2 linked regions of the Homo sapiens genome follow. The protein of the gene in region 1 interacts with the protein of each later gene in a pairwise test. Each region holds a gene or a part of one and is shown on either strand. Other genes may lie near its edges.

Evidence for each region.
Region 2: the proteins of STOM (region 1) and CNIH3 interact in binary tests that used the Homo sapiens proteins (3 or more experiments, as listed by UniProt).

What each region holds. Positions count from the first base shown.
Region 1 is NC_000009.12:121,342,751-121,346,250, reverse strand, and holds part of STOM (stomatin), read left to right. Parts: intron 1-3,500. UniProt on the Homo sapiens protein: Regulates ion channel activity and transmembrane ion transport. Regulates ASIC2 and ASIC3 channel activity.
Region 2 is NC_000001.11:224,734,817-224,738,316, reverse strand, and holds part of CNIH3 (protein cornichon homolog 3), read right to left. Parts: intron 1-3,500. UniProt on the Homo sapiens protein: Regulates the trafficking and gating properties of AMPA-selective glutamate receptors (AMPARs).

The DNA.
Region 1 (3,500 bases):
TGGGAGGCTGAGGTGGGTGGATCACCTGAGGTGAGGAGTTCAAGACCAGCCTGGCCACCATGGTGAAACCCCGTCCTTACTAAAAATACAAAGAGTAGCCTGGTGTGGTGGTAGGCGCCTGTAATCCCAGCTACTGGGGAGGCTGAGAAGGAGAATTGCTTGAACCCTGGAGGTGGAGGTTGCAGTGAGCTGAGATTGCGCCACTGCACTTCAGCCCAGGCGACAGAGCAAGACTTCTTCTCAAAAAAATTAAATTAAATAAAAAATTAATAATAATAAAAACTTAAAAAAAAATGAAACTTGTTTGCCATCCCACTATTCAAAGGAAAAATTGAAGCTCTGAAAAGTTAAGTGACGTCCGCAAGGTCGCACAGTTGATTAGTAGCAGTGGAAATTAGAATTCCCCTCTGCTCCTCATTGCCTCCTCTAGTACTGACTTCCCAGGATGGGCTATGAGCCTCTTCCATAGCATTCTTAAGAGTTTGGAAAGAAAATTTCTATCTTCCCTTTATAACAGTAAGAAAAGATAGAAGAAACCGCTTAGAATTCTGAATTGCCATGCTCCCACTTGGACGGGGCTGTAGGGTTAGTCTAGAAGCAGTCTCATGAACCTGGGCAGTGACTGTCTTGGAGTTCACACATAGAATCACAATGAGCCTAGCCCTTCTGTAAAATACAGTAACCCTGCAACAACCATAGGCTTATTGTATTGAAATTCTCATGGAAAATAGGGGGGTCACAGTTTCTTCAACAAATAAATTGCACAGGAAAGGTGAGATAGAGTGGAATAATCTAAAGATTAAGAGACTTTATAGAAAAATTCCTTAGGCTAATTAGCCATCGGGGAAATGCAAATTCACATTATAAGCGGATGTCACACTAGACAGCTATCAGAATGGCCTGAAAAGAACGGAAAAGAACCAAGTGTGGGTGAGAGAGGAACTAGAACTCTCATATTCTGCTGGTGGCAGTGTAACTTAATACAACCACTGTGGAAAACAGTCTGGCAATGTCTATTCATACTGAACATTTGTATACCCTATGAGCCAGCAGCTCCAACTCCTAAGTATGAATCTAACAGAAATGCACTCATATGTTTACCAAAAGGCATGTACTAGAATGTTCACAGCAGCACATTGACCCAAACTGTAGAATACCCAAATGTCCATTCCTAGCTGAATGAATGAAGTCTGGTTTATTCACATGTAGGCATACTACATAGCAAAGAGAATGAATGTAAGTGCTCACACACATAATTTGAGTGAAAGAAGCCGGTCACAGAAGAGGACAGATTCTCCTACGTGTTTCTCTGTATGTTAGGTTTGGTTTTTAAAGTGTTTAGACCAGCTCTTAGTGGCCTGAAATGTAATATCTTTTGTGTTTGCATCAGCTTTTATTTCCTTTTCATAACTCTCAGAAAAACACCTGGCACATGCTTTTGGGCTCATGTTTCTGGGTGTAGAAGTCTATTAATTGAGAGGATGGAGTGCAGAAATACAGATCACCTTTCTCTGCCTTTTCCTCTGCCCAGACCACCTGGTCTGCAGAAGGGACAGGTAGCACCAATTTCACATACATGAAAATGCCAGACTTTAAAATGATGTTCTATAAATATGAAATGTTGATTGCTATGAGATTACTGCACATTCGACAAAAGCCGTGCACACCCACAAATAGCTTGCTTTGCTCTCTAAGATCCTATCAACGGAGTGTACTTGGCCTGTATTTAGACAAAGCCGGTGGTGTTGTTTACATCTTTGGCAGCTTGCTCAGTGTGGCTTTTCTATGAACAAAATGTGTGCCCAGCCCGGTGGGTCTGGCTTCTCAGCCAAGCGATTGTGTATTGATTGGTGGTGGGAAATGAGATATCTTTTCAGTTGGTCCATGTCCAAAGAAAAAAGTGCCTAATTGGACATCTGAGATGATATGGAAAAAATGAGAGCCTGCTGCTCTCATAGCAGGGGATTTCTGATGTATTCTCTGTAGTGCCTACCTTGGAATACAGTTCTGTGGTTTTCTTTGAGCAAAGCTGGCACTTGTCCCTTCTCACAGACCTAGGCAGGACATGATGTGTGGCTTTGATAAATTAAGGTTTTTATCCTATAAGCTGGATCCTTTCTCTCAGTGAGTACTATATTCTGTATCCTATCTCCATTAATGGCACTAATCTATGCAACCAAAACCTGGAAACCTGGGTCTCAGCCTGTGTCCCCCTTTCCTCCTCCTACCTAGTCTCCAAATTCCACTGATTCGCCCTCCTTCGGGGAGGGAGAATAGCTCCCCAAACCATTTCATTCTCTGTCCCCACCACCTATGAATCGCACCGGCCACTCTAAAGCAGTTCCACTAGCAGCTTTCACTGCCTTCTCTTCTAACCTCAGACATCTGTCAGAGAGCTTTTTCAAACTAGATCTGATGGAGTTTACTTACCTGCTTAAAATCATTCTGCAGCTTCCCATTGCCTACAGAATGAAGACCAAACACCCTGGCCCTCACTGCCCTTCAGAACCCGGCCCCATTCATCCCCCACCTTTCCCCTCTTCCTGCCATAGTATTCAGCCATTGACAGTTTTCTGGAATATACCATTTTTATACCTCAGTACCGTTTCATGTGTTCTGCCCAAAATATTCTTCCTCATCTTTTTCTAAACAGCAAACATTTTATCATTTAATATTCAACTTCTATAACCTCACCACGTCACCCTCTGGAAAAGTTGCTTTCTTCTGTTTGCTTGCACTGTGCCTTGTACATATGTCTGTCAGCATTTATCACACTAGAATGAAATGATCTACTTCCATGTCTGCCTTCCCTACCTGACCAGGAGCTGAAGAAGGCTAGGGATTCCACTCTATCCTTAGCTTTTCCTACACAGGGCTTATTAACCCTAGAAGGCCCCCAAATTTTGCTGTGTGAGTGAATGAAATCTCACTGGGCATAAGACCATCACCTCCAATTCTGATATTCATGGAGTATTATGGACCATTAATTATTCAAGATTCAAGTGAGGATAATAACCTGGAGAAATTGTACTTTTAATCTTGATAATTATGGTGTCTTAATACCTTTCCTTCTTCTAGGATTATGAATTAAAGTAACTACCTTGAATCTTTTGTGCATTAAAGCATAGTTGGACCCAAAAATCAGGTCTTGTCACTTGCCATTCCTCTATAATAGCCCCCTTTATTCATTTAACACTTTATATACTTTCTCTGTCTTCCTCACAAGTGGTCCTCTGAAGTACATGTTAGTCTGCTTTAAGAATGGGAAACTGAGGTTCAGGATGTTCAGTAACCTCTCTGAGGACATTCGGCTGGTAAATGTTAGATTTGGGATTTGAACTCAAGTCCATTTGACTCCAGAACTCCTGTTCTGTCTACTACTCGAGTGATCTTCAAACTTTTTTGCCTGTGAAACCCCTTACAGAATTTAGAAAAACTATAAAGTCCATCAAACATTTTAAATCGGCATGTAAAAATTTTTCATCTTGAATTTATGTACT
Region 2 (3,500 bases), on another chromosome or scaffold:
CAGTGCTTTTTGCATAACAGTACTAAGCCTCAAGTGGATACCTTTGTTTACTCACTTTCATTCGTTATGCCAGACACTATTCTCAGTGCTGGGGAAAATGGTGAGTGTGCAGCCCCAATTCCTGCCTTGAGGAAGCATACAGCTAAGCTGTAACAACAAACCACGAGGATTCAGTGAGTGCCAGGCACGGGCCAGGACACTGCAGACGCAGAGGTGAATGAAACCAACATGGTCTCCAGTGTCAAGGAACAAGTAAATCATAAATAACATAGATGGAGAGAAATAAACCTGAGGAGGAACAGGCATGATCCAGAATAACCACGCAGGAGGGTGGTCCTACTACTTCAGGTCGGAAAAAAATCTTTCTACAGAGCAGACACTGTTCACACTGGGCTCACTAGCTAGTATTAGTATCTGCATTAGCTAGTCCCCTTCTAACACAACCCTCAAATATCACCTGGTCCACAAGGCAACCTGAGAAGTGGGGTGATGGGTGCCATGCGGTTCAAACAGGATAGAAGAAAGAGCACAGGCTCTGAAGCCAGATGTTGCTAATTATTAGCAGGGACCTGAGACACATTTCTTAACCTCTCCGAAGTCCTCAGGAGCCCCTCAGGGAGCTCAAACTATAAACTATCAACCCCGTCTTCCCCGCTGTTGTGTGGGTCTCTAGCCCTGAGCTCAGTTCAGACATGGCTCTGCATACACGAGTCCCCTTCCCTCCCTCCCACGGTGGCCTGCGCTGACGCTGCTGTGCTCTCCACCAGCTCCGGATCTGAGGGGCTGGCAGCTCCTAAGGTGGGAGAAACAGAGTCTTTTAAGCAGCCCCAAAGAGCACCAAGGGGCCAGATTCAACAAAGAATGTGGGTGCCCGTGGCGGCCACCCAGGGTCCCAGTGAGGCTGCAGGAACTGTTTCCAATTTTGTTTTAGAAACAGAGTGATTAACACATGTATCATGAAGGCAGGGCCAAACTGAAGTAATGAATTAGAGGACAAACAGTCAAACAGACTGTCTGGAACACACTCGGTTACAGAACAATCACACCCATCTAACCGAGAGGAGCTGCCAAGACCTCCCTACCCCACCCCCTCCCACCCCCGCAGCGGAGCACGCACAGCCGCTTCCCTCCCTGTGAACTCATATGGCTTCTTCCCTGCGACGCCTCGGCTCCAGCAGTTACTGCAACAAAACTGAAATGAGGGAAAGTCTCGCCTCTGTCTTCATCCACACTGAGGTGGATCCCAGGCTAAAGGGGCAGGAGCTAATGAAAACAATGGTCTCATTCTGTTGGCTTAGAGGAGAGACAGTGCTGTCTCTGGGGACAGGCCACTCAGCCCATGACTCTGCAGAAGGGGAAGTCTGTGGCTCCACAAAGAAAGCAGGGTTGAGCACACTGCAGGGAAAAAACCTAACCTCCAAGGTGGCAAGTCCCTAAGCCCACGGCGGCTTTGTCCACACTCTGTAGGTCTCCCAAGACAGAAACCCATCTGACAAGCCTTTGGTTGTTAAATAGTTCAGACTTGGAGTCAGAAAGACTTAGGTGAACCCACTGGGCACCGTAGAAATCTCCGGAGGCTTCAAAGACCGTCAGGCTCCCTGCAGGCTGGAGCAGTAAACATCCCAGAGCACCCCACAGAGTCTGCGGACACTGGGGATGTAAAGGGGAGGGAAGGCAGAACCAAGTAGAATGCTCCAGAGCCACCAAGGTGTGCACCAAGATTGTCCAGAGAGCTTGTTTAAAACGCAGAGCCCAGCCCTGGAAAGTTTGAATAGGTAGCTATAAGCCCAGGAATCTGCATTTTTAAAAAGCACACCTTCCTCCCTTCCTTACCCCACACTTTGATGAAGACTTTTCTAGAGGTTTTCTAAGATAGCCAGCAGTTAAGAGCTACTGGGCACGGTGGCTCACGCCTGTAATCCCAGCACTTTGGGAGGCTGAGGCGGGTAGATCACATGAGCCCAGGAGTTCAAGACCAGCCTGGGCAACATAGCAAAACCCTGTCTCTACAGAAAAATACAAAAATTAGCCGAGCATGGTGGTACATGCCTATAATTCCAGCTACTCAGGAGGCTTAGGCAGGAGGATCCCTTGAGCCTGGAGTTCAAGGTTGCAGCAAGCTATGATCCTGCCATTGTAGTCTAGCCTGGGAGACAGAGTGATACCCTCAAAAAAAGAAAAAGGAAAAAGGAGTTCAGTCTTTGAAATCGGACTCAAGATGTACTACTTACAGCTGTGACACTAATAGCTGGAATTCAGGAAAATTATCTAACTTCTCAGATTCAGTTCATTTTTCATATGTGAGTGAGGATAGTATTTATCTTATAAATTGAGCGATACGTACAAAGCTCTGAGCACAAAGCCTGGCTCATTTTTAAATGTCAGAACTTTGGGAGGCTGAGGCAGAAGGGTCACTTGGGCCCAAGAGTTCAAGACCTGCCTGGGCAACACAGTGAAACCCCATCTCTACAAAAAATTTTAAAATTAAAAAAAAAAAATATAGCCGGGCATGGTGACACACACCTGCAGTCCCAGCTACTCAGGTTAAGGTGGGAGAATCACTTGAGCCAAGTTCAAGGCTGCAGTGAGCAGCGATGGCACCACTGCACTCCAGCCTGGGCAAAACAGTGAGACCCCATCTTTAAATAAAAATTAAAAAATAATAAAAAATAAAAAATGCTGGACAAATGCAGCCACATTCTGGCCTGCCACAGCCCAATCCAAACCTAGGGGTGGCGTGCAGTCCAACATCCCGACCCCTCCTCCTCTTCACCTGGCTGCTGTCAACCATGCCCTTTTGGAGACATCACCGGGAGGTTTGGAGATCACCATGGCCCTGCCACAGGTAATGATGGAATCGCAAGTGACAGGTGAGAGTCCCCAGAGATGAGCCAAAGAGGAGCAGGAAGGAGGAGGAGACATTTGCGGAAAAGGCACTCTCTGTGGTGTCAAACCACAAGACAGTCTGTTTATAGCTATCTGCTTAGTTAGGATGTTCTGAGCGGAGAGGTGAAAAGAAGGGACACTCCTGAAACAGGACTGCAAAGTCAGCAGGTTTTTCTTAATTGGAATGGTGTTATGTAATATTGGGAAAACTGTAAATGAAGCATTTAGCGACACAAAATGCCACTTTATGAACCGTGACAGCCACTGTGGGGCTGGGGTGGGGAGTTTGGGGCCTCTGTTATGGTTCCCAAGAATCCTTGGGGCAAGGGACAGTGAGGATGAGCCTGAGCCCCTGTGGCCACAGGCAACCTGCTGGGCTGAGCTGCAAAGTCGTGAGAGGCAGGAAGCCCTATAGGGAAGAAGGAGTAGCCAACTGCACTTCACCAGTTATCTCCAAAGGGATGTTGAGAGGGTGTTTTCACTGCGTGGCCCTAAGGATGTGCCGATCAGCAGGCAAGGCCTCCTGCAGGATCTCCTGCCCCCTTACTTGTTTATACAGAAGCCCTTGCTCCTGAGCCAGAGTCAGACAGCTGGGACTACACCTGAATGGCCAT